Linked DNA regions of Homo sapiens. The protein of the gene in region 3 interacts with the protein of the main gene of each other region in a pairwise test. Each region holds a gene or a part of one and is shown on either strand. Other genes may lie near its edges. The genes, in order: PPP5C, POLA2, STIP1 and CCDC117.

Region 1 (7,834 bases), on a different chromosome or scaffold from region 3:
GACGGGGTTTCACCACATTGGACAGGCTGGTTTCGAACTCTTGACCTCAGATGATCCACCTGCCTTGGCCTCCCAAAATGCTGGGATTACAGGCATGAGCCACTGCGCCTGGCCTTTTTAAAAAATGTTTACTGGAGACAAAGTCTCACTGTGTTGCCCAGGCTGGTCTCAAACTCCTGGGCTGAAGTGATCCTCCTACCTGGGCCTTCCAAAGTGCTGGGATTACAGGTGTGAACCAGCACACTCAGCTCCGGGCTCTACTTCAATCAAGAGAACCCAAATCTGACACCAAGCCTGAATCTGAGGGGGCACAACTGCCTCGTCAACAGTCTCCTTACTCCCACCCTCGAGCCCTGGTCTGTTCACTCAGTCACTCAGCTTTAGTGCCAGATTTAGGGCCACCCAGGAGCCTGTTTCATGCCCTTGTGCAAATTAGAATAAGGGGCCCATCCTCACACCCTTGTTTGCCATCTGCTGAAAAATGGTCAGAGTAAACATCCATTTCTACACTATCTATGATGTAAACGCGTCCTTTGGTGTGATGCTTTTGTGCAGTGCACTACATACTCAATCTTAAAAGGTCGCCCTGTGCATGATCTCCGAGTCCACAAAATAAATACAGCTGCAACTATTATCCTTGCAGAGTGAGTGCCCCACTCAGGACCCCACAATGAACCCAAACCTTGTCACTTCCCAGCTCACCTCGAAGGAGGTGAAAGTGATCTGGGTACAGGAGCTTGAAGCCGAAAAGGGTGAGGATCACTTCTACAGAGAAGGAGCCTCGGTCCACAAAGTCACCATTAAATATCTGTCCTGCTGAGGAAAACATGGCAAGCGTGGAGGGGAAGGGTGCGGTGCGGTGGGGTTGGGGGTGGTGGCAGAAGATGGGCCAGATGGGCTGCTCCTGCCTGGCCTCAAGCCTCCTGTCAGCACCTCCCAGGGAGTGAGGACTTGGCAGGGCTCAAGGGATCTGGGTTTCTAATCCTTTCCTCACCGTGGCTCCAGCCAGAGCTTGGCCGCTGAGCCTCAGTAGTATGGCACTGAGGACCCTGCCTCCTGTCTCCCGGAAAGCCAGTGGCGGGGAGGTGCGGGGACTAGTCAGTCCACCTCCTTCAGCTCTCCTCAGAGAGGCCTGGAGCCATGGGGGAGATGGGACACGGGCCCTCCCACTCAACAATGCATAGGCCTAGTGGCCCTACAAGTGGCCGTTCATCGAGCAGATACCATAACACGGGGAAATACTTAGATAGCATCAGGTGTGGGCCAGGCCCTGTTCTTAACCTGTCCTCTCAGTAACTGCTGAGTAACAAGGTTGCACATATTATTATCCCTCTTTGCAAATGGGGAAACTGTGACACCAAGCAGTGAAGTAACCTGCTTCGGTCACACAGCTGGGAAGTGGCAAAGCCAGGATGGAACCCAAGTGTGGCCAGTGCCAGGTGCCATTCAAATGTGATCCTGAGGCAGACGAAGACAAGCCAAGACCCAGAGAGACTGAGCTACCAGCTTAGGTCACACAGCAGGTGGGTGCTGGCCCAGGCCTGTCCGAGCCTGGAGCCTGGGGTGCATGGCCAGCCTGCAGCTCCACCCACACCTTGGTGCCCCAGCATGGCCAGGCCTCTCCTTTCCAAGGTCACGTCTTTTCCTGGCAAGGGCTCCTCCCACTCTGTGCAGACCTGAGGCTGCGGCTGGGGGTGGAGGTGGGGAGAGGGTGGCTCTGCTGAGAAGGATACATAGGGGTTGGTCTCCGAGGGTAAACCGTTGAGCTCGAATATGTTGAGGAGGTCATAGAACTGGCCATGGGTGTCCCCACATACTGTAATCTTCTCTGTCTGAAAGAAAAGAGGCCACCGGAGAGGGACGGGCCGAGAGAGAGACGTGGGGAGGGGGCAGAGGTGAGGGGAAGGGTAAGAGTTCACAGTAGACCAAGAAGAATCATGCAAGAGACACAAGCAGGGAACACAAACGAAGACCAAGAGGCCAGGAGAGAAATGGGATATTCAGGAGGAAAGGCACAGGGGTGGGGTGTGAGGGAGAGAGGGAGGTGGATCCGTGAGTTCCTGAGCTCTGTGGCCCCTCCCCAGCCAGAGAGCCCACCCCCGCTGGCCCTCCCCGCACTGCCCCACAACGCGCACCTCTTTGAGTGTGGTTTCCACGAGCGTGCTCAGCTTGGAGAGGACCTCTTTGACCTGTACCAGAATCTGGAAGGCAGGGCAGACTCAGTGGGACCGGCTGCAGGGGCTGCTGCCCAACCTGGCCCCGAAAGCCTGGACTGCCCATGAGACGCTGCTGGGCTGAGGGCGAGGGAGAAGCAGGGAGAGAAGAAAAAGGGCAGGGCAGGCCTGGGGGAGCGGGAGCAGGCGGGGCCGGAGGCAGCCGCAGGCTTCTGTGGCCTGTGCAGTGCCGAAGCATTGCGATTGTTTTGTACGAAAACCTGATTCTTGAATTATCTTAAAATACTCAGCATCAAGTGGAAATACATGCATGAATCCAGATCGTAGAACATTTTATAAAAGAACTGGCCTGGACACAGCGCAATGTCACTGTCATAAAAGAGTCTCCCAAAAAAGAAGTGAGACTTTCTAGGTAAAAAGAGGTAAAAAGGCAGGTCATAGGCAACACTGGTGCTTTCAACGGACGCTGAATTTTTTAAAAGCAGCTAAAAAGGATGTTTTGGGGAGAGCTGGGGAGAATTAAAATACTAATAGATGTCTAGAAATGCAGATGATTTATTTTTCACAGATTGGATATGACCTTGACAATGACATGCATATTTGTCAATGTTTCCAGATTTTCCGGATGGCCTGTGGACTGTCTACCTTAGTCAGTATTATCACATCAATGATGAATTTCTAAGGTAGGACAATTCAACTGTGGTCACACAAGAGGACGTCTTTGTTTTTGGGAGATCCAGGTTATGATGGCTGCAACTTACTTTCAAATGGGTTAGGGGAAAAAAAAGAAAAAAGTATACACATACAAATGCATAAATAAGTAGACAGACACATAAAGTTAATGCATTAAAATGTTCACAAGTGGTGAATCTGTGTGAAGGGTGGACAGATGTTAACTGTACTGTTCTTTCAGCTCTCTGTAGGTCTGACGATTTCCAAAATAAGCTGGGGAAAAAGGTGTTAAGAAAATGCAGGCGGCATCCACTTCTAGTCAGAAGGTAGAAAAGTTACAAAAGACTGTCTCGCCCTAAAGATGAAAACAAGCCAAACAAGCAACAAAATCAAAGGTAAAGCCATCTGAGAGCTGGCAATGCAAAGGGACCTAAATTAATCAAAATGCAGACAGGACGAGCCCTTCCTTGGGGAAGGAGCCCACAGCTTTCACCCTGGTGCGAGGCAGCAGGGCGGGATGCCCTGCGTGAGGGGAAATGAGTGGAAGTTCATGACCGTGTGGGGACTGGCGTGACAGATGAGGACTCCAGGGAGCCCCAGCACAGCCCGCCTCTGCCCCCTGCCAACTCCCTCACACGGGCTTCATGGAAGGTTGGGCGCGAGGGAGTGAGGTGCAGAGAAACCTCCTGAGGTACAGAAGTGGGGGCGAGACTGGAGAGCGGAGAGCACCCCAGTGGCCCCACAGTCTGGCGGCAGGGCTGAATACCAGAGGCCTCCCACAGTTCCAAAAGCTGGCGACTTTAAAACATAAAGACATCCCTGGAATTCTGCCAGGGCTAAGATCCCAAGCTCTGCTGAAGGGAAAGTCCTAATTCTACTCTGAACACATTTAAAGCCGGTGGTAAAGAAACTCCAATAAAAGCTGCCCCTAAACTACAGATGAGGTTCACACAGCCCCTCCCTCTTGTGGCTCAACAGGAGAAATGTGTGCCATTTTCTTATTTGTTTATTTGTTTTAAGACAGGGTCTCACTCTGTCACCCAGGCTGGAGTGCAGTGGCTCGAACACAGTTCACTGCAGCCTCAACCTCCCAGGTTCAGGTGATCCTCCCCACTCAGCCTCCCAAGTAGCTAGGACTACAGGTGCCAACCACCATGCCTGGCTAATTTTTGTATTTTTTTTGTAGAGGTGGGGTTTCTACAAGTTGCCCAGGCTGGTCTTGAACTACTGGGCTCAAGCGATCTGCCCACCTTGGCCTCCCAAAGTGCTAGGATTACAGGCCTGAGCCATGGTGCCCAGCCTAAGTGTGCCATTTTCTGAGGAAAAACTTTATTTACCTCAGTCTCTAATGTTCTTTTATACAAAATAGCTGGCATACAATAAAATTGTAAAACACATGAAGAACTGGTAACAGAGCAGACTCAGAGATGAACCAGATGATGGAACTATCAGACAGAGACGTTAAGATAACCATGGTAAATGTGTGAAAGGACTTGGTGGAAAAGGTGGACAACATGCATGAACACATGAGACACAGAGATGAAAAGTCTATTAAAAAAAACACAACTAAATGAAAATGCTACCAATAAAAAATACAATGTAAGAAATAAATAATTCATTTGTTGGGCTTGACAGCAGTTACAAAGAATCAGTGAACATAAGGACAACTGAAATTATCTGAACTGAAATACATAGAGGAAAAATCGTGAAAAGAATTAAAAAAATTCAGGTCATTAAGATCTAAGGAATAGTATCAAATAGTATCAAAGAGCATGTTATTAGCTTTCCAGACGGAGAGGAGAGCAGAAATGGGAAGAAATATAAGAAATAATGGCTAAGAACTTTCCAAAACTAATGAAAGATATTAACCCACAGACTCAAAAAAAGCACATCAAAGCCCATCATAGTCAAACTACTAAAACCCAAAGGCAACATCTTAAAACCAGTGAAGAAAAAAGCAGACTATATAGAACAAAGATATGAATGATTGCTGAGTTCTCACAGAAACAATGGAGGTCAAAAGGCAATGGGAAAAAAACACATTTAAAGCCTTGAAAGAAACAATGTCAACCTAGAACTCTACATCCAGCAAAGACACCCCTAAAAATGAAGACAAAATAAAAACATTTTCAGGCAGACCAAAGCTGAGAGAATTAGTCTACAGCAGACGTGCACTGTAAGAAATGCTAAAAGTACTCAGGCAGAAGGGGCATGATACCAGATAGAAACTCACATATGGAAGAAGAAACAAGGAGTAAGAGAAAGGGTAAATATAAAAGACATTTTCTGTGTATTCATACGTGTATTTCTTTAGAAGACTAGTGTCTATTTAAGGAAATGACAACAATGTATTTATAGCAGATGCATAAGCATGACAAGAGCACAAAGGCTGGGAGAAAATAAAAGCAATCACAATATTGTAAGATTCTTTTTTTTTTTTTCTTTTGAGATGGAGTCTCGCTCTGTTGCCCAGGCTGGAGTGCAGTGGCACGACCTTGGCTCACTGCAACCTCCACCTCCTGGGTTCAAGTGATTCTTCTGCCTCAGCCTCTCGAGCAGCTGGGATTAGAAGTGTGTGCCACCATGCCTGGCTAATTTTTGTATTTTTAGTAGAGACAGGGTTGTAGAGATGGGGTTTTTGCCATGTTGACCAGGCTAGTCTGGAACTCCTGACCCCAAGTGATTCACCTGCCTCGGCCTCCGAAACTGCTGGGATTACAGGCATGAGCCACTGCCCCAGGCCATAAGATTCTTATATTGTCCATTAAGTATCATATTATTATTTGAAAGTAGAATAGGACAAGTTAAAGTTACACATTGTAATCTTTGGAGCAGCCTTTTTCATCCAGGGTTCCGGGAAATGATTAAGCCCCACAAAAAATATTTTCAGTGATATCTGCTCAGTTCTCCCAAGGAGAGCACACAGATTCACAGGAGAGGAGTTAATTCACTGCGGATATAATGGATGCCTAAGGGAGTTAGGGCTTAATTCTCTCTATAGAGCCTCAGCTGAGAAGGGCTGCTCTAGAGCAACCATGTAACACTCCACCCCTCGCCACACACATTCAAAAGTATAACAAAAAATTCAATAAAACAGATGAAATGCTAAAAGATTCCTGATTCACACAAAAGAAAGTCAAAGAAGGAGAAACAAGGGGGAAAAAAACAAATGGGACATATAGAAAAGAGACATCTAGACAGTAGATTGAAATGCAATCATATGATTGCTGATAGTTAAACATAAATGAACTAAACACTCCAATTAAAAGGTAAAGATTGGCTGGGAATGGTGGCTGACACCTGTAATTCCAGCACTTTAGGAGGCCGAGGTGGGTGGATTATCTGAGGTCAGGAGTTTGAGACCAACTTGACCAACATGGTGAAACACTGTCTCTATTAAAAATACAAAAATCAGGCCAGGCATGGTGGCTCATGCCTGTAATTCCAGCACTTTGGGAGGCTGAGGCAGGTGGATCACGAGGTCAAGAGATCGAGGCCATCCTGGCCAACATGGTACAATCCCATCTCTACTAAAAATACAGAAGTTAGCTGGGCATGGTGGTGCACACCTGTAGTCCCAGCTACTCGGGAGGCTGAGGCAGGAGAATCACTTGAATCTGGGACACAGAGGTTGCAGTGAGCTGAGATTGCGCCACTGCACTCTACCCTGGTGACAGAATGAGACTCCGTCTCAAAAAACAAAACGAAACAAAAATTAGTTGGGTATAGTGGCGTGTGCCTGTAATCCTAGCTACTCTGGAGGCTGAGGCAGGAGAATTGCTTGAATCCAGGAGGCAGAAGTTGCAGTGAGCCAAGATCACACCATTGCACTCCAACCTGGGCAACAAGAGCGAAATTCCACCTCAAAAAAAAAAAGGTAAAGATTGTCCAACTGGATAAAAAGGCAAGACCCAAGTATATGCTGTTTATAAGAAAAACATTTTAAATATAAAGATACCAATGGGTTAAATACAAAAGGGTAGAAAAGTTATAGCATGCAAATATTAACTGTAAAAATCTGGTTTAACTATTTTAATAGAAAACAGGGATTTCAAGCCAAAAAGTACTGAAGTCACTTCATTATAATGAGTCAATTCATCAAGAAAGCATAACAATCCTAAATGTGTGCCTAATAAAAATTTCAAAATACAGGAAGCAAAAAACTGAGAATTATAGGGAGAAATAGGCAAATCTACAAGTATAGTCGGAGCTTTTAACAGCCCCCTCAATAAATGATTGAGCAATTAGAAAAAATAGGCTATAAAAGATTTTTAACAGCAGTCTCAACCATCTTGAACTAATTGACATTTATAGAGCCCTATGACTAACGACTGCAAAATACACACTATTTTCCAGTACATACTGCATGTTTGCCAAGACAGATCTAAAAATAGCCCCAATGGAATCATCCAGAGTGTGTTGTCTGACCAAATTAGAAATCAGTAACAGTAACATCTAGAAGTCCCCAAATATTTGGGAGTTAAACAATACCCTTCTCAATAATCTATGGATAAAATCAGAAACCATAAAGAAAATTAGAAAACAATTCTAACTCAATGATAATGAAAATACGACGTATTAAAATTCACGGGACGCAGCTAACTTACTGCCTGGAAGGAAATTTAGTTTTAAATGCTTTGTGTGGAAGAAAAGATGTAAAATTAACAGCATTAATGTCCATCTTCAGAAGCCAGAAGAAAGCAAATTAAACCTCAAGCATGCATAGAGAATAATGAATGAAAAATCAATGAAACAAAAGACAATCAATAGAGAAATTCAACATGAACAATGAAAACATGTTCACAAAAAGACTTGTCCAAGAAGTTCATAGCAGCTTATACTTATAAAAGCTACAAAGTAGAAATAACCCAAATGTCTCTCAAAAGAAGACTGCATAAACAAGTCATGGGCTGTTCAGACAATGGAGGACTTGAGCTACCGATATACACAACATCCATGTATGAATCCCACACACATTGTGCCACATG
Region 2 (7,834 bases), 1.1 Mb from region 3:
TTTAAAATACGTTTCTGTCTCTAAACTTCTCTAAAAATGTTTGGTATTCCTCAGCCTGGTATTCCTCAGCCCTTCATTCCTGAAATTCCTTAAAGGTCTGGGTATGTCCAACCCCATTAAACTGATTCAATTTATAAACTATGAGGCCACCTTCCTTTTCTCCAGTCCCCATTTCCAAAGGTAACCTCATTTTATTCTTCTCTCCCTTTAGATATGAACACAGTAATATTAACCTGTTTTGCTTCCAATTAGTGCTACTCCCTCCCAGAAATACAACTCACGAAGTAACCGAGGAGAAGTGGTTACCTCCTTCGGCTTAGCACAGGGAGTATCTTGGTCTGGGAGAGGAGGAGCTGGAAACATCAGCCTGAAGGTCTTGGGATGTCCAGAGGCACTAACTGGGAGCTACAAATCCATGTTTCAGAAGCTCCCAGACATTCGAGAAGGTGATTGTTTTTCCCTTTGAAATTCTGGTGGATATAAAACCACCTAGAAGGGTGTAGAGTAACAAAGCTTCAGCTAGGCTGGTAGAACAAGTTCCAAGGTTGCCTTTCAATGTATGAGTTGGTAGATGTCCTCATGGAAGCCCTAGTAATGGAGGGACACGGGCAATACTATCAGTGATTGCCCCAAGTCACTTCACTTTGCTAAAACGCACATAACCATTCCCAGCAGCAAAAACTTGAACGATGTAAAGGAATTCAACTTAAAGATATTCATGGTTCCTTCGTTAGAAGCCTTCTTCAGGTTGGCCTTGACTTGCCTAAAACCTCAGTGAGGACTTGAGTAAAGGGCAGACTTGGAGATGGGGTGGGGTTCATGCTGATTCCCTGGAATTGTGCTATGGGGTCTCCTGTGGCCAGATGGAAGGCCAGATTCAGCAACCAAATATCGGAAAATTGGCAAAGGTTTTAGAAGGTTTAAACTGGCCAGATGTCCAGGCACCCTTCCTGCTTCTGTAAAATGACTGACTTTAATATTTTACAATGTGCTGTATTTTCTCTTCTTGGCAAGTGAAATGTCTTAAACATAATACTTTTTTCCACTTCTGGGATTGTAGTTCTGACCTGTAAGATAGAAGAACTTGGCAGCGAACTCAAGGAACATTACAAGATTGAAGCTTTCACTCCTTTGCTAGCCCCAGCACAGGTAAGAGTTGTTCTAATAGTTCTCACTAATTAATATTACGTTTTTAAATCGATGACCAAGAGGCATCCTTCTTGCTTCCTTTTTCACTTCTTGTCTGTGTTCTAGTTTGAACATCTGTCTTGGTTGAATTTGGGAAAATGGGCCCTTCTGAAGAAAGATTTGTAAGTGCTGTCTGGTTTTGTGGCCAGAGAGTGATTTTCTTCCCACTTGGATTAGAGTCTTGCACATAAGCAGAGACTCAAGGCCTTGTTTCCCTTGGTGGTGAGTCAGGTAGCTCCCCGGGGATTTCCCACAAATAGAAGCATTCACGTATCGAGATAAAAGGACAGCAGCGACGGTGGGGTTTTCAGAATCTTGTTCTCTGGACAATGACTCACAGTCTCTCCCCTGGTTTGGTCTCTTGTTATAGACAAACTGCTGCCAATAGTATCTTTATATCATAGTTTAATCTGGCATATATACCAGTGCTTTCTCTCTAGAATGTTTTCTAATCTAAGGGGAAATATATTCTAGAAGTTTCTTTAAAGTACCTTTGTCAATGTTTACATTCAAAGAATGATCAGTTGGGGAAGTGATGCAGAACTGTGTCATAGAAGGAAGTGTTAGAGGACTTGGAAGGAAGTAATTGAGGGAAGGCAGGGAGGCACAATCACTGGGAAAGATGAGACTTCCTCTGTTTTCTCCCAAGAGTGGGAACAGAACAGAGGAAGCCATGGAGACAGAGATTTTAGCTCAATTAATAAAGAACTTCCTGTTAAGAGGTTGTATGGTATGTGGCTAAGGATATGGCTCTAGAGCCAAATTTCTGGTTTCAAACCCAAGCTTCACCCACAGTTTGACCTTGACTAAATTATCTAACCTTTCTGTTGCTTGTTTTCCTCATCTGTAAAATGGATACAGTAATATCCACCCGATGGTTGTTGCAAGGATTAAATGAGTTAATACATATAAAATGCCTAAGAATACATTTTAGAACAGTGCATGGTATTTAGTAAGCTCAAGAAATGTTAGCTATTATTAAGTAGTTATAGCTGCCCAAAGATGCAGTGGGCTGCCCTGGGGTGGTGAGGACAGGGTGGGGTAGGCATCCAGGGGCAAGTTCCCCTACACTAGAGATGCTCACACTTAGGCAGCCTCCTAGGAAGGCTCAAGTGCTGGGTGGATGGGTGGACAAGATGCCCTTTCAGAGTTCTTCCATCCTGAGAGTCAGTGATGACGCGGTAGTCACCTCAGGGTCAAAGCAATGCCCTGCCAAGAAATGTATTTGTTGTTTGCAGTTTGTTTTGCTATTCACCCTATCGACTTCAGATTTTGAGCTCCTGCTCCAAAGACTGTCATTCTTATGCTGTGACCTTCCTTTGGTAGGAGCCTGTCACTCTGCTGGGCCAGATTGGCTGTGATAGCAACGGGAAGCTGAACAACAAGTCAGTGATTCTCGAGGGAGACCGGGAACATTCCTCGGGTGCTCAAATTCCAGTGGATTTATCTGAGCTTAAGGAATATTCTCTGTTTCCTGGACAGGTGAGATTGGAGGAGTTCCACCAGAATGCAGGCGCACTCTTTACCCCTGTAGTGTAGGTGCTGTGCCATGCGCAGCTGCTCCTCAGTTCCTGTCTCTGCTGCCATGGGGTGCAGCTGGAGCACATGCCCCAGAGCAGACACCACTGTTGGGATTCCTGTTTCCCCCATGCTCTGACCCAGGCTCTGGGACCTGACTGCGCAGCCTCAAATCCCAACTCCCCGCTCCATGAGGTGCATGACTGTGCACAAGGTACTTAACCATCTAAACTACAGTTTCTTCACTCACAAAATGGAAATAATAATTCTTACCTCATAGGATTGTTGTGAAAATTAGATCACTTATATAGAGCATAATTATTATTACTAATGCAACGCCCTTAATTCGTTTTCTACAAAAATGCCCTAAGTTTATGATTACAGAATGAGAGTAGTTGGACAATGCTTTTAACTGCCTCAAAATAATGTATTCCAGACCTCATTGATCTCCACTGCTTAGCAATCCTGTTTGTTTTTGTCTTTCAGGTTGTAATTATGGAAGGAATCAACACCACTGGTAGGAAACTTGTTGCCACCAAACTCTACGAGGTACACAGCAGTACCCCCACTTGCCTCTTGGTTTGCTTCAGACAAAGTATGTCTGGAAGCTGTCTGTTCTAGAAACTGGTCCTTTTTAGGAGCCCATTTATTTGTTAGTCAGTTCTCCATCTGTAAGTGGGAACCCACCCCTAGGCCAGGGGTCAGCAAACCCTTTCTATAAAGGGCCAGACAGTAACTCTTTTAGACTTTGTAGCTATATGGTCTCTGTCACAATGACTCAATTCTGCCTTTGTCTACAAAAGCAGCCATAGAGGACTCTTAAACAGATGACTGTGGCTGTGTTCCCATAAAACTTTATTTAAATAGTGGGCTGCAGCCAAATTTGGCCCAGAGGCCGAAAGGTTACCTATCCCTGCTCTAGGCAACAATCCTCCAGAGATTTTCGTAGAATGCCAGGAAAAGTAGCAAGAAACCATTCTCTCCCATCCTTGCCTAGAAGTACACTGATACTTTAGGCACCTGTTTTGCTCCCACTTGTTGCTGGGTATTTTATGACAATTGAGTAGTGACCTCCCATTACCTGGGTTTCTTTGCCCTCTGAGCAGTATAGAAAAATGGCAGGTCCCATCAGATCCAGGGAGCAAGACAGAGGCACATCCTTCCCCTGCCCTCTCGCTCCTCCCCACTGTCCTCCCATCACACACCTGCACCACCCCCAACCTGGTGCCCTCCCCTTTCCTTACCAAGGTGATGCCTGGCGCAAGACCTTACTTGAGCTTTTCCCCTGTTTTTAGGGTGTGCCACTTCCATTTTATCAGCCCACTGAAGAGGATGCAGGTGAGTTTCGGTTCAAATATTGTTTTGCCAACAATGAGGATGGTAGACATGAGTCCAGGAGTGCAGTTTCCCAAGCCCAAGAAAGCTGCAGAAGCTGCTGAAGAGCAATGTGACCAAGCAGTGAGGGCGCCACCATCATGAGTTCGTAGGTTTTTTGTCACAAGACCCCTGGTCTGAGCCCAGTGAGCGTTGGTCGTGCTGTCGCCTGAGTTCTGCCTACATGAAGCATGTTGTTTAAAGACTAATGTTTAACAGGTATTTTTGAAGGTTGCCTTGGAAAGGAAAAGATGTACGATTTCAAAAAGAATTTATTTACATGCAGCATGGGCAGATGCGGTGGCTCACACCTGTATTCCCAACACTTTGGGAGGCCAAGGTGGGAGGATCACCTGAGGCCAGGAGTTGGAAACTAGCCTGGGCAACATAGGGAGACCCTGTCTCTACTAAAAATTAAAAAAAATATTAGCTGGGCTTGTGGTGCATGCCTGTAGTCCTAGCTAATCAGAGGCTGAGACAGGAGGATTGCCTAAGCCCAGGAGTTCAAGGTTGCAGTGAGCTATGGTAACACCATTTTACTCCAGCCTGTGTGACAGAGCGAGACTCTGACTCTTAAAAAAAATTAAAATTAATTAATTTTTTGAAAGTATAATGTGGCATCCTGGATTGGATCCTTGAAGAGAACGGGAACATCAGTGGAACAACTAGCAACATCTGAATAAAGCCAGGAATTTACTTTTTTATTTTTCTGGCTCTAACACTCAACCTCGAGAATCCAGGAATTTAGTTAACAGCGATATACCAGCATTAATGCCTTAATTTTGACAAATGTTCATGGTTACCTAACATGTTAAGATTAGGGGCCACTGGTGAAAGACACACAGGAACTCTGTACTATCTTCATAACTTCTCTACAATTCTAAATTTGTTCTAAAGTGAAAACTTAAAAATAACTTCCTTTTTTTTTTTGAGATGGAGTCTCGCTCTGCCCCCCAGGCTGGAGTGCAGTGGCAAGATCTTGGCTCACTGCAAGCTCCGCCTCCCGGGTTCAGGTGATTCTCCTGCCTCAGCCTCCTAAGTAGCTGGGATTACAGGCGTACACCACACCCGGCTAATTTTTGTATTTTTACAAAACCCCATAGTGATGGGGTTTCACCATGTTGGTCAGGCTGGTCTTGAACTCCTGACCTTGTGATCCGCCTGCCTTGGCCTCTCAAAGTGCTGGGATTGCAGGCATGAGCCACCATGCCCGGCCAAAAAGAATTTCTTTAAAACCCTAGTGTTATGTGGTAACTAATCTAGTTGTGGAAAGGCAAAAAGAAAGTTTGACAAACTTTGCTTCTAAATATTTCAACATAATTTCAGCACTTCACAGGGCTGAGGTGGGAAGATCACTTGAGCCCAGGAGTTTGAGACCAGCCTGGGCAATATGGCGAAAACCTGTCTCTACAAAAAAAAAAAAAAAATTAGCTCGGCATGGTGGCATGTGCCTGTGGTCCCAGCTGCTCAGGAGGCTGAGGTGCGGGGATCACTTGAGCCTGGGAAGTCAAGGCTACAGTAAGCCGTGATCATGCCACTGCACTTCAGCATGGGTGAAAGAGTAAGACACTAGATAGATAGATAGATAGATAGATAGATAGATAGATAGATAGATAGAATTTATTTATTTCAAGGTGGCCAGGTGTGATGGCTGACTTCTGTAACCCAGCACTTTGGGAGGCCAAGGTGAGAGAATTGCTTGAGCCCAGTTTAAGTTTAGCCTCCCGGCACATAGTGGGTCTGCATCTCTACAAAAAATAAAAACAAAAAAAATCAGCTTGGTGTGGTTGTGCACACCTGTATAGTCCCCACTACTTGCGAGGCTGAAGTAGGAGGATTGCTTGAGCCCAGGAAGTCAAGGCTGCAGTGAGCCATGATTGTGCCATTGCACTCCAGCCTGGGTGTCAGAGTGAGACCCTGTCTCAAAAAAATATATGTATGTATTTCTGTATTTCAAGGCATTGTTTTTTTTTTCTTTTTTTTTTTTTTAGACAGAGTTTCACTCGTTGCCCAGGTTGTAGTGCAAGGCGCCATCTCGGCTCACCGCAACCTCCACCTCCCGGGTTCAAGCGATTCTCCTGCCTTAGCCTCCCAAGTAGCTGGGATTACAGGCATGCACCTGTAATGCCTGGCTAATTTTTGTATTTTTAGTAGAGATGGGGTTTCTCCATGTTGGTCAGGCTGGTCTCAAACTCCCAACCTCAGGTGATCTGCCCGCCTCGGCCTCCCAAAATGCTGGGATTACAGGCATGAGTCACCACACCCAACCCTCAAGGCATTTTTGTAAGCACAGTGGAGCACTGTTAAGGATTAGCAACCAGATCACTGATACTAGCATGTTGTCAACACCCCATGCATGTAACAGTGGCCAGAGCCATTCTTGGAGATGACCTAGAATCAGGAGTGAAATTTAGGACCTTGTGATATTGCACATTTTATCAGAAAACACAAGTTTGGCCGGGCGTGGTGGCTCATGCTGGCGCAGGAGGATTGCTTGACCACAGGAGTTTGAGAGCAGCCTGGGCAACATGGTGAAACCTCATCTCTACAAAAAGTACAAAAATTAGGCCAGGCGCAGTGGTTCACCCCTGTAATCCCAGCACTTTGGGAGGCCGAGGTGGGCGGATCACACGGTCAGGAGATAGAGACCATTCTGGCCAACAAGCTGAAACCCCATCTCCACTAAAAAATACAAAAATTAGCTTGGCTTGGCAGCGTGTGCCTATAATCCCAGTTACTCAGGAGGCTGAGGCAGGAGAATCGCTTGAACCTGGGAGGTAGAAGTTGCAGTGAGCCGAGATCGCCAATGAACTCCAGCCTGGCGACAGAGCTAGACTCTGTCTCAAAAAAAAAAATTAGCTGGGTGTGGGCATGGTGGCATGTGCCTATAGTCCCAGCAACCTGGAAGGCTAAGGTGGGAGGATCACTCTCCTGAGTCCAGGAGTTCAAGGCTGCCATGAGCCATGATCATACCACTACTGCACTCCAGCCTAGGAGTGAGAGTGAGATCCTATCTCAAAAAAAAAAAAAAAAGAAAAAGAAAAAAAAGAAAATACAAATTTATAGGGGGCAAGGGTGGCATGCTGGTATTAGGTCAACTTCAGGTAATGAAATCAACCTGGCTGAGATACCAGGAGCCTGAGCTGTGTACCAGAGAAGCCTTTGGAAACAGTTTAACAGGTTGTTAATGAACTTTTGTACAAGGAATTAAATGAGGCACTCATGGAGATACAGAATAAGACATGGCCCTCGCCCTCCAGAGACTCACTGCTTACACTGGGGCTCACATCTCCTGTAGGCTTCTCAGAGCCAAACTTAACTTTGTCCCCTACCCCACCACCACATGAAACCTGCTCTTCACCTTGAATGCTCTGTCAGTTCATGGTATTATTACCATGATAGACTGAATCACAGCCCCAGGAATCCCTGGAACCTGTGAATATTTTACCATTTGTGGTAAAGGAGACTTTGCCCGTGTGATTAAGTTAAGGCTGTTGAGATGGGGGATTAGCCTGGATTATCCAGGTGGGTCCACTATAATCACAAGGGTCCTTATAAGAGGAATGGCAAGAGAATCAGAGTCAGAGCTTAGAAATGTTAGGCTGCTGTGATTTGAGGAAGCCTAAAGAAAAATTTTATTTCAAAATAGAGAAATCTTAGGCTTCTGGCTTTGCCGCTGCAGGTGGGGCCATGAACCAGGGAATGCAGGTGGCCTCTGAAAGCTGGAAAAGGCAAGGAAATGGATTCTTCTCTA
Region 3 (7,834 bases):
ACAAGGAGGGAAATGAAATCGTTGAGGCACATGCCTTCTGCTCTAAAAGAGTGCTGCTTAGCGGACACTCCCAACCACACACCATGTCCAGCCAGGAAGCAAAGGCCTAGGGATTGATGTGGACAACATTCTTCGGATCACGACAAGGACGTGAATTACTCTCAACTTTCCAGTCTTGCTAGGACCAACATTCACACTGGCAGCAATGAAGCCGCTGTGGTGACCACGGGAAGGGCAACTCCCGCAGCTCACTCTTTGCTACACATTACTCCTAGGAATGCTCTTGTGAAGCTTTTTTTTTTTTTTTTTTTGAGATGGAGTCTCGCTCTGTCACCCAGCCTGGAGTGTAGTGATGAGCTCTCAGCTTATTGCAACCTCTGCCTCCCGAGTTCAAGCGATTCTTCTGCCTCAGCCTCCCGAGTAGCTGGGACTACAGGCGCCCACCATGACACCTGGCTAATTTTTGTGTTTTTAGTGAAGATGAGGTTTCACCATGTTGGCCAGACTGGTCTTGAACTCCTGACCTCAGGTGATCTGCCCACCTTGGCCTCCAAAAGTGCTGGGATTATAGGCATGAGCCACCGTGCCTGGCCTGAAGCTGATTTTTTAACATGCTGGCCATTCTAATGAATAATAGCCATAAGCTTAGCGCATACTAAAGCACTCAAAATAGTTTTAGGTGGGCACAGTGGCTCGTGACTGTAATCCTAGCTGAAGCAGGAGCATCGCTTGAGGCCAGAAGTTCAAGACCAACCTGGGAAACACAGCAAGACTCCGTCTCTAAAAAAACCATAATAATCATGGTCAATCAAGGTCAACAGATGTCCCCATTCAACATAAAGATTTCTAGTTGTTTATAGATAGGTGACAGTGAGGAGAGAAAAAAACAAGACCTGCTTCTTATTCTCTGGAAGATCTTCTTCCATTGGCTCTGGCTTGGTCTCCTTTTTGGGAGGGGGTGGTGGTGGAGGTGTTGCAATCTCTTCCTCCTCATCCATACTGCCCAGATCGACCCCAAGGAGGACGCTGAGAGTGGTCATGATCCGGGGATCTTGTAGTTTCCTAGTATTGATTTAAAAAAATAAAGAAAAATTGTAATTACTCCTCCCCACAATTAGTCTTTTAACTCCCACTTACTACTAAAGTCAGATTCTTGTGTTTAGAAGCTCCTCACCCATCAAAAGATGGCTAGATTTTGCACCACTCATGAGTTACAATTGAGAAATACTCAAACCGTCAAAACACTATCTAAAATAGAGTCAACAAAAACAAATAAAATGAAGTCACAGATAGCGGAGCACGGTGGCTCACACCTGTAATCCCAGCACTTTGGGAGGCCGAGGCGGGCAGACCACTTGAGGTCAGGAGTTTGAGACCAGCCTAGCCAACATGGTGAAACCCACCGCTACTACTAAACATACAAAAATTAGCTGGGCGTGGTGGCGTACACCTGTAATCCCAGCTACTCAGGAGGCTGAGGCAGGAGAATCGCTTGAACCCAGGAGGTGGAAGTTGCAGCGAACTGAGATCACACCACTGCACTCCAGCCTAGGGGACAGAGCGAGACTCCATCTTGAAAAAATAAAATAAAATAAAATAAAATAAAATGAAGTCACAGAGGTCAAGTTTATTCCTCAAGGTTAGCAGATACACAGAGGAATGAGTTGTTTTAGGTATACTTCCGTAGCTGATCTCAGGAGCCAGAGGATTGATAGAGATGAATACCAGTACAAGATTTAGACACATCTTTACACATGAACTTCAACCCTGTTTCCACTCTGATATACCAACAGAGAAAGTAGGGCCTAAGTAGATGGAAAGGATGGGGTTGACGCTAGATCAGAGTTCTAGAAGAGCAGGAGAGAGGTGTATACAGATGACAAAGAACATTCTAGATTACTGTGAAATATGCTCCCCTGACCCTTTCTATAATTACAAATAAACGACCACCACCTACTGCTCTGCAGAGAATAAGCAAAGGCAAAAACTCTGCAGTTTAGACCAGGGAACCCTCTGCTGTGAGGTTACAGGAAGAAAGCATAACATTCCCCGATTTCCAGAACCTCAGTGAGCGGCGTCCACTTACGTGCCCAGGTCAGAAGGCTTGTTTCGTAGCTGCTCTATCAGCTCCCGGTAGGTAGGATCACTGAGTAGTGTCCTTGTCCTGGGATCACTCTCCAACTTCTGATACAGATTAGGCATGTTGAAAGGGTTCATGAATTTTCTCTCTGTCCAAATAAAGGAAAGCACATCACTATGAAATGAGTTCACTAGAATTACTGTGTCCCATACCCTACCAGACTGACATTTCTCAGGGGTGAAGACTCAAAATTAATCACATTAATAATAAGAAAGAAAACTGTGCGTGGTACCTACCTGCCAACCTGGCCTCCATATTCTGTAAACCCTCTTTCAGTTGAGGGTTATTTGCCTCGTGTTTTAAGCCCTCCTCATAGGTTCGCTTGGCTTCTTCAAAGCGGTTTAAGAACTCTAGAGCTGCTGCTTTTCGTGAATAGCCCTTAAACCACCAAAGACAGACACAAAATAGAGAACACCCAGAGGTAAATCTAGAAGACGAACTCAAAAAAGAACAATTCTACTTTTATGGGGGAAAAATGAGTATTCACATGAAGGCCAAAGAGAAAAAAAGGAGAGGAGTAGGCTACGAGGCCAAGGCTGCTACTGTAAGGATCCATCCAAATAGCAGAGGCACATCCGCCCCGCCTTGTTCACCTCTGATCGACTGTGGTCAGTTTCTTTGGCAACACTTTTTCCCTTATTTTTTTGGTAAAGACAGGGACTCCTTATGTTACCCAGGCTGGTCCCAAACCTTTGGGCTCCAGTAATCCTCCTGCCTCAACCTCCCAAAGTGCTGGGATTATAGGCGTGAGCCACTGTACCGGGCCTCTTCCTTTTTTTTTGAGACAGGGTCTTGCCGTGTCACCTGGGCTGGATGCAGTGGCACGATTTCAGCTCACTGCAACCTCCGCTTGCCAGGCTCAGGTGATCCTCCTGCCTTAGTCTCCTGAGTAGATGGGACTACAAGCACATGCCACCATGCCTGGCTAAATTTTTTTGCATTTTTAGTACAGACAGGGTTTCACCATGTTGGCCAGGCTGGTCTTGAACTCCTGACCTCAAGTGATCCGCCCACCTCAGCCTCCCAAAGTGTTGGGATCACAGGCGTGCGTCACCGCGCCCAGCCCTGGCCTCTTCCTTCTTAGTACCAAAAATAAAGCCTGTATTACAACTAATGGCTACCTTAGATTTGATGAAAAATGCCATTTCTGAGGAGGATACTCAAACAGGGAGGTGGGTAGGTAACTATCAGTGTATCAGGACAGGTAAACCTCAGGCCACCAAAAGGCATTTCTGGAAGGGTCTGAAGGGCCTCTCTCCCTCCACTGCCCACAGCTGACCTTGCCCCAGTCAGGCTTTAGGTCGACAGTCTTGCAGCCATCCTCATAAGCCTTCTGGTAGTCTCCTTTCTTGGCATAGGCAGCAGAACGGTTGCTGTACAGCACGTGGTTGTGGGGATCCAGCTTAATAGCTTCGGAGTAGCACTGTAAGGCATCATCGATGTTACCCACGCTCAGGGCCTTGTTGCCTTTCTCCTTCAGCTCATTGACCTGAGGGGAAAGGAACACACAGCTTCTCTATGATGTGCCCATTTAATCCCAAGCTTTAAAGACAACACTCATTCTTTCATGTAGTTACCAACAAATAAATAGGTGACTTTACAGATCAGAAGAGAGAAAACCGGTTCATTTATTTAATTTCTCACACCTTCCCTAAGGAGCCAGCAAAGAAAAAATAAGCAGGGGCAAAGAGCCCAGGCTGCACTCCACGCTGGCCCCCATGTGACGAACGAGGGCTCTGCCACTCTTCCGGTCTCCACATGGAGCTCACGAAGCCACTCCAGAATGTGCCACATGCTCCTTCCATGGAAAAGTCAATTCATTTGCCACAGATTTCCAAAGCATCCAAATGACAAACAGAGCACAGCCCTAGTCACCCCTCACAGGAAGAAGGTGGGCGGAGTGGCACTGATACATGCTCCAGTGACCCAAAGGCTGTGGGATGGCAGCGGAGACTTCTCTTTCTTGGGAGCGGCAAGATGCTTGCCTATGGCATAGTTGTCATCTCCTCCCATCAGGGAAGAACCAGTCTCCATTTCCTGGTGTGGCAACATGTCACCACAGGATAGATAAATGTTCATTAATGGGTAACAGTCAAGCTAGCTCCCCAAATTGATTCCTGCCATTCTTAAATATTACATTACAAAGGGGATGGAGGATGAAGAAATGCTACTGTGGTTTAAACCTCTCCCTTCTCAAACATATAAAGTGCAAGAAGTAAGGATACAGCGGGGTTTTGTTTTGTTGTGTTTTTTGAGACAGAGTCTCACTCTGTCACCCAGGCTGGAGTGCAGTGGCACGATCTCGGCTCACTGCAACCTCCGCCTCCCAGGTTCAAGCGATTCTCCTGCCTCAGCCTCCCAAGTAGCTGGGACTACAGGCGCACACCCCCACACTTGGCTAATTTTTGTAATTTTAGTAGAGACGGGGTTTCACCATATTGGTCAGGCTGGTCTTAAAACTCCTGACCTCAGGTGATCCACACGCCTTGGCCTCCCAAAGTGCTGGGATTACAGGTGTGAGCCACCGCGCCCGGTGGGATACAGCAGTTTTAAAAAGTGAGGCAGCTCTGCCTGGCCGCCCCACCGACTGGGAAGTGAGGAGCGCCTCTGCCCGGCCACCCAACTGACTGGGGAGAGAGGAGCACCTCTGCCCACCTGCCCCACCGTCTGGCAAGTGAGGTGTGCCTCTGTTGGGCCACTGTGCAACCCTCCAAGTGTGAAGTGACAGCCTTGTGTGTGATCTTTCTGCCCTCCCCAAGTTTGCATTTTCCACATTAAATTTTACTTTTTCATTAAAAAAAAAAAAAAAGTGAGGCAGGCCTTGGCCCTGTCAGAACAGTGTCCTCACTAAAGGGTTTCTCCTTACTGAGCTGCCCCACAAAAGGTCAGGTGCCCCACAGCAGCCTACCTGAGGGCAGGCAACCCCTTGAGAAGCTCATTGTATTTATTATTATTATTTTTTGAGACAGAGTCTTGCTCTGTCCCCAGACTGGAGTGTAGTGGCACAATCTTGCCTCACGGCAACCTCCGCCTCCTAGGTTCAAGCGATTCTCCTGCCTCAGCCTCCTGAGTAGCTGGGATTACAGTCACCCGCCACCACGCCCAGCTAATTTTTGTATTTTTAGTAGAGATGGAGTTTCACCATGTTGGCCAGGCTGGTCTCGAACTCCTGACCTCTTAATCCACCCATCTCAGCCTCCCAAAGTGCTGGGATTACAGGCGTGAGCCACCGCGCCTGGCCATATTTATTTTTTTTTAAAGATGGCATCTCACTCTGTTACCAGCCTGGAGTGCAGTGGCATGATCACAGCTGACTGTAACCTTGAGCTCCTGGGCTCAAGCAATCCTCCTGACTCAGCCCTTTTTTTTTTTTTTTTTTGAGACAGAGTTTCACTCTGGTTGCCCAGGCTGGAGTGCAATAGCACAATCTTGCCTCACCACAACCTCTGCCTCCCAGGTTCAAGCGATTCTCCTGCCTCAGCCTCCTGAGTAGCTGGGATTACAGACACGCACTACCACATCCGTCTAATTTTGTATTTTTAGTAGAGACGGGGTTTCTCCATGTTGGTCAGGCTGGTCTTGAACTCCTGGCCTCAGGTGATCTGCCTGCCTTGGCCTCCCAAAGTGCTGGGATTACTGGTATGAGCCACTGCGCCCGGCCAACTCAGCCTTTTAAGTAGCTGGGACTACAAGTGTGTGTCACCATGCCTGGCTAAATGTTTTTTTCTTTTTGTGGTAGAAATGGTGTCTCACCATATTGCCCAGGCTTGTCTCAAACTCTTGGCCTAAAGCAACCCTCCTGCCTCAGTCTCCCAAAGGTGAACCACCACACCAGGCCAAAATACACTTTTAAGAGGTAAACGTTCTGTGAGATAGAGTTGTCACCGAAGTTACTAACTCATTCTATGTATTATCCACCCACGACCCAGTAAATTGATGCAAGAAATAGTTTTGTCAAGAGAAATGATTTTAGGCTGTAATCTCAGCACTTTGGGAAGCTGAGGCGGGTAGATTAACTGAGGTCAGGAGTTCGAGACCAGCCTGGCCAACATGGTGAAACCCCGTCTCTACTACAAATACAAAAATTAGCTGCTGCCGGGTGCAGTGGCTCACGCCTGTAATCCCAGCACTTTGGGAGGCCAAGGTGGGCAGATCACCTGAGGTCAGGAGTTCGAGACCAGCCTCAACATGGAGAAACCCCGTCTCTACTAAAAATACAAAAAAAATTAGCCGGGCGTGGTGGTGCATGCCTGTAATCCCAGCTACTTGGGAGGCTGAGGCAGGAAAATTGCTAGAACCTGGGAGGCGGAGGTTGCAGTAAGCTGAGATTGCGTCATTGCACTCCAGCCTGGGCAACAAGAGCGAAACTCAGTCTCAAAAAAATAAATAAATAAATAAATTGCCCGGATGTGGTGGTGCATGCCTGTAGTCCCAGCTACTCAGCAGGCTGAGGCAGGAGAATCATCTGAACCTGGGAGTCGGAGGCTGCAGTGAGCCGAGATTGCACCACTGCATTCTCACCTGGAGGACAGAGTGAGACTCTATTTGGAAAAAAAAAAAAAAGAGAGAAATGATTTTGGAATCCTCAAATAGAGAGATCAGGAACTTCCATCAATCAGAGACCTTACAGAGGCAAGGGCAGAAGGAACCTGCCAAATTAAGCAAACAAGGGATAAAAAATCCTAGAGCCCAAGATGGAGGCCAGAAGACGAAGAGTTAACAAAACTCAAGTGGTGTCAAGAGGCAGCTGGTGAAGTTCCTGCCTATGCTTTAGAAAAGCATTTTTCAAACAGAGTACTGATCAACAGTGGGTCAGGAAATCAATTTTGTAGGTCATGACCAGCATTTTAAGAGACCAAATGGGACAAAAAAATACCAGCACACAGTGCACATAACAGTAAATACTGTTTTGCTGAATGTGTTACATGGCTGTACGCCTGTGTTGGGTTAAATGTAAGAAGTGTATCATTGTGGGATTTGAAAGGCCCCTATTGAAAAAAAAAAGCCTGAACATTCAAAATCTGTCCAACTTTTTTTTTTTGGAGATGCAGTTTCGCTGTCATTCAGGCTGGAGGGCAGTGGCGCAATCTTGGCTCACTGCAACCTCGACCAGCCAGGTTCAAGCAATTGTCCTGCCTCAGCCTCCCACGTAGCTGGGACCACAGGCGCGCACCACAATGTCCGCTTATTTATTTATTTTTTTTTTTTGAGACGGAGTCTCGCTGTTACCCAGTCTGGAGTGCAGTGGCGCAATCTCGGCTCACTTCAAGGTCCGCCTCCCGGGTTCAAGCGATTCTCCTGCCTCAGCCTCCCAAGTAGCCGGGACTACAGGCGCGTGCCACCACATCCAGCTAATTTTTGTATTTTTAATAGAGACAGGGTTTCACCATATTGGCCAGGCTGGTCTTGAGCTCCTGACCTCGTGATCCACCCGCCTCAACCTCCCAAAGTGTTGGGATTACAGGCGTGAGCCAGCACGCCCGGCCCAGTTTTTCTTTTTTCTTTTGTATTTTTACTAGAGACGGGGTTTCACCATGCTGGACAGGTTGGTCTCAAACTCCTGACCTCATGATCCGCCCACCTCGGCCTCCCAAAGTGCTGGGATTACAAGTGTGAGCCACTGCACCCGGCCCAACTTGAGTATTTTCTAAACTGAAATACAAACCTCACAGTTGAAAATGAAAACAAAAGGTA
Region 4 (7,980 bases), on a different chromosome or scaffold from region 3:
GAACTCCTGACCTCGTGATCCACCTGCCTCGGCTTCCCAAAGTGCCGGGATTACAGGTGTGAGCCACCGCGCCTGGCCTTACTTCTTTTTCTATTAGACTGTTTATGAGATATAATTTTTCATCTATTAGTTGGGCAGCAATCCCGAAGTTTAAAAACACACTTGTGTTCAGAGGATGTTAATGGGCATATAAATTGGCAAAAACTCACGTTCAAAATTTAAAATGCACACACTTTAAGACCCAGCAATTCCACGTCAAGGAAATCATTCATATACTTCCAAACATATACAAAGAACTTCAAAAGAATGGTCAGGGTAGATTGTAATAGCAAAAGATTAGAAATAATTTAGAAATGCATCAATAGGAAATTGGTTAATTATCTACACCAAGTCCTACGATAGAATTCCACACAACTACTTTCTTTTGTTTTTTTGAGACGGAGTCTCACTCTACTGCCCAGGCTGGAGTGCAATGGCGCAATCTTGGCTCACTGCAACCTCCACCTCCCGGGTTCAAGTGATTCTCCTGCCTCAGCCTCCTGAGTAGCTGGCATTACAGTTACGCACCACTACCCATGGCTAATTTTTGTATTTTAATAGAGATGGGGTTTCACCATGCTGGCCAAGCTGGTCTCAAACTCCTGACCTCCTGATCTGCCCTTCTCAGCCTCCCAAAGTGCTGGGATTACAGGTGTGAGCCACCACGCCTGGCCTCCACTCAACTATTGAAAGAGAAATTACGTAAACCTCTCTCTATGTGCTGATATGCAACAAGCTACAGAAGAGTAAAATGAAAAGATCAATGTGTTGCACAGTGTGAACCATATCTTCCTACAAATGTAAAAACACAGCCACTGCACTCCAGCCTGACAGAATGAGGCCTTGTCTCAAAAAAGAAAAAAAGAAAGAAAAAGAAAAACACTTGTGAACTTGGTAAATTTTTAGATTATCTTCTAAAGGAGACAATGAAAACAGGTAAGGGGGTTGTCTCTGGTGGGGAAAACTAGGGGTGTGGAGTAAAAGATTTTGTAATACAGCCTGGGGGACGGTTCACACCTGTAATCCCAGAGTTGGGAGGACTGCTTGAGGCCAGAAGTTCATGACCAGACTGGGCAACATAGTGAGACACCATCTCTACAAAAAATTTTTTAAAAAATTAGCTGAGCCTGGTGGCACAAGTCTGTAGTCTCAGCTGTTCAGGAGGCTGAAGCTGAGGGATCATTTGAGCCCAAGGAGTTTGAGGCTGCAGTGAGCTGTGATCACACAACTGCACTCCAGCTTGGGTGACAGAGCCCCTGACTTTAAAAAAAAAAAAAAAAAAAAGACTTTTCAGGCCGGGGCGGCTCAGGCCTGTAATCTCAGCACTTTGGGAGGCTGAGGCGGGAGGATCATGAAGTCAGAAGATCAAGACCACCCTGGCTAACACAGTGAAACCCCGTCTCTACTAAAAAAAAAAAAAAATTGCCAGGCGTGGTGGCGGGCGCCTGTAGTCCCAGCTACTCGGGAGGCTGAGGCAGGAGAATGGCATGAAGCCGGGAGGCGGAGATTGCAGTGAGCCCACATAGCGCCACTGCACTCCAGCCTGGGCGACAGAGGCAGACTCCGTCCCAAAAAAAAAAAAAAACAAAAACAAAACTTTTCAATATGTATCCTTTAAATTATTTTACTTTGTGCATGTAATATTAACATGGCTCAAAATCCAAATATTACAACTTGTTATAGAGCGAAAAGTTTCCCTCTGACCTGTCTGCCTGCCACTGTTACTTTCTCTAAAAGACAACCAATGTCACTAATTTCTGTGTCTCTTTCCAGAGACACTCATCTAATGTTTCACCTTTTCACTTAAGTAATTTAGACTATAACAGGGGTTCAACTAACGGTGACCACAGAGTGAATAAACAACCACTGAAACTTACTCATCATCCTCCTCCTCCTCTCGCTTGTGTTTCTTTTTACAGTGAACAGAAACACTGTTGAAACAAACAAAAATCAGTCAATTAAGAAATGTACTCGAGCTTGTGGTTTCAGTATCCTCTTTCTTGCTCCAATAATCTTGCTCATCCCCACATACCAAACGTCCCTTTCTGAGCCTAGTGGGATGGGTACAAATCACAGGTCAGTCGGGTAACGGTGGATTGCCCCGACAGAACTGGACAGTGAAATCTCAACTTGTCCTTTTATCAACGTAATGGAAGACAGATTAGGGAGGACCAAACCAGGGAAACGTCCTCGGGGCAGGCGCTGTGTTAAGCACTTTATTTAAATAATCTCACTAAGAGGACCCATTTCTGTCCCATGCTTGGCATACTTTGCAGATGAGACACTGAAAGTTGTCACTAACAGCGGCCGCGCCGAGGGGGCACCCAGACCGAGTCGCCCAGGTTCCAACTGGGAAAGTCTCACTTCTCCGGGCCGCAGTCGAGCTGAGGTTCGGACCGGACTCCTGGGCTATGTGACCCCCGGCGACTTACAGTTAACGTCTCCGGGGATCAGTTTCTTCATCTGTAAACTGGGCTGCGAAGCTCCCGCGGAGGGCCGTGGGGAGGGAGTCAAAAAGCCCCGGCGCGGAGCCCGCGCCCCTGCCCGCGCCCGCCGCGAGGGGCGCCCAGCCTGCCCGCCCGCCCGCCCGCCCTGCGCCCTGCGCCCGACGGGCTCCTCACCGTCCGCGCGCCGCACTCCCAGCGGGACTGCTAGGGACTGCGCGAGGTCCCGGCCGCGGGGCCAACTCGGCGCCGTCAGCCCCCGGCGGGAAGGCCCGGCCGGGGAAGGCCGGCTGCGGCGGCTGCAGGAAGTCCGAGCCGCCGCTCAGAGGGAGGCCGCTGAAGGGCCGGCCGAGCGCAGCCATAGCCGGCGAGACGAGGAGGCTGCGACGGCGGCCTCGGCCGCCCGCGTCCCCAGGCCCGGCAGCCGCAGCCACAGCTACTGCCAAAACCCGCCAGCCTCGGATCCCGCTCTCGACCCCACGTCACGCCTTCTAGAACCCTCCACCTCAGGCCGCTCGGGGGCATGCCGGGATTTGTTGTGTGTAGAGGGCCGCTGCCGCGAGGGATGCCGGGATTTGCAGTCCTTCCGGACTACAAGCAAAATGGCTGCTTCTCGACCTCTTAGCTGGGGCTTAGGGTGTCTCTGGCTGGCCAAGAGTATGACCTAGGTTCAAATCCTCACTCCGCAAGTTTCGTATCTCAGTTTCCACAGTAGTAAAATGAGATAATAATAGTACATATAATCATAGAGTTGATGTGCGGAGTACATGAATTTAAACATCTAGAGCCAGGGCAGGGCGGTGGCTCACTCGTGTAATCCCAGCAATTTGGAAGGTGGAGGCGGGAGGATCTCTTGAGCCCGGGAGACCCTGTCTCAAAACAAAAACAATCTAGAGCCCTTAAAGCAGTGCCTGACATACAATACACGCTCATTATCAGTTATTCATATGTGACTCTATTAATAAAAATGTAACAATTTTAATACAAATGAAGTTGGTGGTGCCTTAGAACAGCATAGAAAATTAAGTAAAAACCTCAGCTGCTGGCTGGGGGCGGTGGCTCACGCCTGTAATCTTACCACTTTGGGAGGCCGAGGTGGGCGAATCACTTGAGGTCAGGAGTTCAAGACCAGCCTGGCCTACGTGGTGAAATCCCGTCTCTACCAAAAATATAAAAAATTAGCCAGGTGTGGTGGTGCGCGCCTGTAATCCCATGTACTCGGGAGGCTGAGGCAGGAGAATCGCTTGAACCCGGGAGGCGGAGGTTGCAGTGAGCCGCGATCGTGCCACTGCACTCCAGCCTGGGTGGCAGAGCGAGACTACGTCTCAAGAAACAAAACAAAACAAAAAAACACCTCAGTTGCGCGGCAAGGTGGCTCACGCCTGTGATCCCATCACTTTGGGAGGTCGGAGGTGGGAGGTGGGAGAATCGCTTGAGGCCAGGAGTCCATCCTAGGTCTAGCTTGACCCTATCTCAACAACAAAAAAATAACAATTAGCCCACCGTGGTAGTGCATGTCTGTAGTCCTAGCTACTGGGGAGGCTGAGGTGAGAGGATTGCTTGAGCCCATGAGTTTGAGGTTACAGTGGGCTATAATTACACCACTGCACTCCAGTCTGAGTGACAGAGCAAGACCGTGTCTCAAAAAAAAAAAAAAAAAAAAGTAAACTCAGGACTTAAACAAAAACAAAAGCCTCAGAGCACTTGTGACAGGTACTGGCAAGCCTTCCAGCCTCTTTGGGGCATTCAGAGGCAGTATCTCCTGCCTGGGCTTGGCAGATGGTCAACCCCCAATCACTGACTATGCCCTGTTTTTTCCATCTCACAACAGCACCACCATCCAATCGAAACTGCTTATGCCAATGTCAATGCCCTTCAGCCAAAGCACACACATGTACATAATTGAACAAAGAAAGGTTTATCTACTCATTCCAGTGAGGAAATTTCTCCCTTAGGAGGTGTTACAAAGGCTTTTTATAGGATTTGGGGTTGTGTTAGACGTTTTGAGGGAAGGTTTTAAAAAACAGCTTTTGGCTGGGCTCCGTGGCTCACGCCTGTAATCCCAGCACTTTGGGAGGCCGAGGCAGGTGGATCACGAGGTCAGGAGAGCGAGATCATCCTGGCTAACACGGTGAAACCCCGTCTCTACTAAAAATACAAAAAATTAGCCGGGCGTGGTGGTGGGCGCCTGTAGTCCCAGCTACTCGGGATGCTGAGGCAGGAGAATGGCGTGAACCCGGGAGGCGGAGCTTGCAGTGAGCCGAGATCATATCACTGCACTCCAGCCTGGGCAACAGAGTGAGACTCTGTCTCACAAAATAAATAAATAAATAAACAAATAAATAAATAAATACAAAAAATTAGCCGGGGGTGGTGGCGGGTGCCTGTAGTCCCAGCTACTTGGGAGGCTGAGGCAGGAGAATGGCGTGAACCCGGCAGGCGGAGCTTGCAGTGAGCGGAGATCACGCCACCGCACTCCAGCAAGGGAGACACAGCGAGACTCCCTCTCCAAAAAAAAAAAAAAAGAACTTTTCGGCCAGGTGCAGTGGCTCACACCTGTAATCCCAGCACTTTGGGAGGCCGAGGCAGTGGGATCACAAGGTCAGGAGTTCAAGACCAGCCTTGTCAATATGGTGAAACCCTGTCTCTACTAAAAATACAAAAATTAGCCAGGCATGGTGGTGGGCGCCTGTAGTCCCGGCTACTCAGAAGGCTGAGGCAGGAGAATAGCTTGAGTCGGGGAGCCCAGGAGGCAGAGGTTGTAGTGAGCTGAGATTCGAGATCGTGCCATTGCACTCCAGCCTGGGCGAAAGGGCAAGAGAAAGAAAAGGAAAGGAAAAAGAAAAGAAAGAAAACAGCTTTGCTCTGGAATTAATTCTGTCTGGAAGTGGGGATAAATTTGTGATTGGGTGTCCTTTTTGTTTTGAGACAGTGTGTCACTCTGTTGCCCAGACTGGAGTGCAGTGGTGCTATCTTGGCTCACTGCAGCCTCTCCCTCCCAGGTTCAAGCAATTCTCGTGCCTCAGCCTCCTGAGTAGCTGGGATTACAGGTGTGTGCCACCTTGCCTGGCTAATTTTTGTATTTTTAGTAGAGATGGGGTTTCACCATGTTGGCCAGGCTGGCCTCAAACTCCTGACTTCAAGTGATCTGCCCGCTGTGATTGGGTATCTTAACCAATCTTTTCTATAAGGTGTGAGGAATGAAGGAAAGCTCAACCTCTAACTGGTAAAGTAGCAACAGTCCTTCATATCAGTTAGGGTAGGGTGGTATTTAGCAATTTTTGTGGTTTGGACAATGTTTATGCTTTTGCCTGTATTTGGACAGGATTAAGTGAACTTGTTTTTGTCGTGATCCATGAGGTCAGAATAGCCTTGTTTGATAACGCTCTGTGAAATTTTTATGTTTAACAGGAGGACAATGAAGTCTAACAGTATTGTGTCTGGAATTTATTCTTTCCGGTTGGTTCTTGGTCTTCCCAACTTCAAGAACGAAGCCATGGACCTTCGCGGTGAGTGTTACAGCTCTTAAAGATGGTGCGTCTGCAGTTTGTTACTTCAGATGTTCAAATGTGTCCGGAGTTTCTTCCTTCCGGTGGGTGCGTGGTCTTGCTGACTTCAGGAGAGAACCTGCAGACCTTCACAGTGAGTGTTACAGCTCTTAAAGGTGGCCTGTCAGGAGTTGTTTGTTCTGCCAGGTGCGTTTGTGATCTTGCTGACTTCAGGAATGAAGCAGCAGATCCTCGCGGTGGGTGTTATGGCTCATAAAGGCAGTGCAAACCCAGAGTGGGCAGCAGCAAGATTTACTGTGAACAGTGAAAGAACAAACCTACAGTGTGAAAAGGAACACGAACAGGTTGGCGCTGCTGTCTCAAGTGGCCAGCTTTTATTCCCTTATTTGGTCTTGCCCACATCCTGCTGATTGGTCCATTTTACAGAGTGCTGATTGGTCCATTTTACTGAGCGCTGATTGGTCCATTTTACAGAGTGCTAATTGGTGCGTTTTTACAGAGTGCTGATTGGTGCATTTACAATCCTTTAGCTAGACACAGAGCACCGATTGGTGCATTTACAATCCTTTGACTAGACACAAAAGTTCTCCAAGTCCTCACTGGACTCAGAAGCTCAGCTGGCTTCACCTCCCAGTATCAAGGAAGTTTCCTCTGTCAGAAGATACTTTTCTCTTTCTGACCAAAAACCAAGGCATCACCATGAATGCCTCTCTTTTGTTCACACCCATATCTAGTCAGTTAGCAAGTTCTATGGACTTTACTTGCAAAATGCTTCCAGATTCTCCCCATTCCTCTCTAACTCTATTGCCATTGTGATGATGCAAGAGAAAACTAACGAACCCCCTTTGCCAAGATAATGGATTGGGTTTCAGTTTTCTTAATGCCATTTACAATTCAATTTTGCATTCTTAAAGTAAAATCCTGCTTAACTGGATATAAAAGATACTCTCCTGGGCAATTTCTACAAATGGCCACCTCATTCCTTACCTTAAAAAATATCCTTTTTTCCAGCCTTGGCTACCAAATAGTCTTGTTGACTCTGGGGTTTAGGGGAAAAAAAAAAAAAAAAATATTTTTCCAGGCTGGGTGTGGTGGCTCACATCTGAAATCCCAGCACTTTGGGAGGCTGATGTGGCTTGAAGCCAGAAGTTCAAGACAAGTCTGGGCAATATAGCAAGACCCAGTCTCCAAAAAAAATAAAACCTAAAAAATTAGCCAGGCATGATGGTGCATGCCTGTTGTCCTAGCTACTACTGAGGCTGAGACAGGGGGATTGCTTGAGCCCAGTAGTTCAAGGTTGCAGGACACCATGATCATGCCACTGTACTTCAGCCTGGGTGAGAGGGCAAAGCTCTGTCTCAAAAAAACAAAAACGATACTTCCAGATGATCCTATGTATAAATATAAATACATATATATATATATATATATATATATATATATTTTTTTTTTTTTTTTTTTTTTTTTTTTTTTTTTGAGACGGAGTCTCGCTCTGTCACCCAGGCTGGATTGCAGTGGCGTGATATCGGCTCACTGCAGGCTCTGCCTCCCGGGTTCACGCCATTCTCCTGCCTCAGCCTCCCGAGTAGCTGGGACTACAGGCGCCCGCCACCACACCTAGCTAATTTTTTGTATTTTTTTTTAGTAGAGATGGGGTTTCACCATGTTAGCCAGGATGGTCTTGATCTCCTGACCTTATGATCCGCCCACCTCGGCCTCCCAAAGTGCTGGGGTTACAGGCGTGAGCCACCGCGCCCGGCCATAAATATATATTTATAAAAAGAGAGTCATGGCCGGGCGTGGTGGCTCATGCCTGTAATCCTAGCACTTTGGGAAGTCAAGGTGGATGGATCACCTGAGGTCAGGAGTTTGCGACCAGCCTGGCCAACATGGTGAAACCCTGTGTCTACTAAAAATACAAAAATCAGCCAGGTGTGGTGGTGGGCAACTATAATCCCAGCTCCTCGGGAGGCTGAGCAGGACACTCG

Evidence for each region.
Region 1: the proteins of STIP1 (region 3) and PPP5C interact in binary tests that used the Homo sapiens proteins (3 or more experiments, as listed by UniProt).
Region 2: the proteins of STIP1 (region 3) and POLA2 interact in binary tests that used the Homo sapiens proteins (3 or more experiments, as listed by UniProt).
Region 4: the proteins of STIP1 (region 3) and CCDC117 interact in binary tests that used the Homo sapiens proteins (3 or more experiments, as listed by UniProt).

What each region holds. Positions count from the first base shown.
Region 1 is NC_000019.10:46,377,778-46,385,611, reverse strand, and holds part of PPP5C (serine/threonine-protein phosphatase 5), read right to left. Parts: exon of another isoform or gene 3,088-7,834; intron 2,202-3,087; coding exon 2,136-2,201; intron 1,833-2,135; coding exon 1,734-1,832; intron 809-1,733; coding exon 703-808; intron 1-702. UniProt on the Homo sapiens protein: Serine/threonine-protein phosphatase that dephosphorylates a myriad of proteins involved in different signaling pathways including the kinases CSNK1E, ASK1/MAP3K5, PRKDC and RAF1, the nuclear receptors NR3C1, PPARG, ESR1 and ESR2, SMAD proteins and TAU/MAPT.
Region 2 is NC_000011.10:65,278,478-65,286,311, forward strand, and holds part of POLA2 (DNA polymerase alpha subunit B), read left to right. Parts: intron 1-252; coding exon 253-446; intron 447-1,060; coding exon 1,061-1,149; intron 1,150-2,514; coding exon 2,515-2,670; intron 2,671-3,192; coding exon 3,193-3,255; intron 3,256-4,001; coding exon 4,002-4,044; intron 4,045-7,834. UniProt on the Homo sapiens protein: Accessory subunit of the DNA polymerase alpha complex (also known as the alpha DNA polymerase-primase complex) which plays an essential role in the initiation of DNA synthesis.
Region 3 is NC_000011.10:64,188,873-64,196,706, reverse strand, and holds part of STIP1 (stress-induced-phosphoprotein 1), read right to left. Parts: intron 3,630-7,834; coding exon 3,420-3,629; intron 2,519-3,419; coding exon 2,377-2,518; intron 2,229-2,376; coding exon 2,087-2,228; intron 1,063-2,086; coding exon 894-1,062; intron 1-893. UniProt on the Homo sapiens protein: Acts as a co-chaperone for HSP90AA1. Mediates the association of the molecular chaperones HSPA8/HSC70 and HSP90.
Region 4 is NC_000022.11:28,767,715-28,775,694, reverse strand, and holds the start of CCDC117 (coiled-coil domain-containing protein 117), read right to left. Parts: upstream 3,001-7,980; 5' UTR 2,846-3,000; coding exon 2,661-2,845; intron 2,559-2,660; exon of another isoform or gene 2,472-2,558; intron 1,971-2,471; coding exon 1,917-1,970; intron 1-1,916. UniProt on the Homo sapiens protein: Facilitates DNA repair, cell cycle progression, and cell proliferation through its interaction with CIAO2B.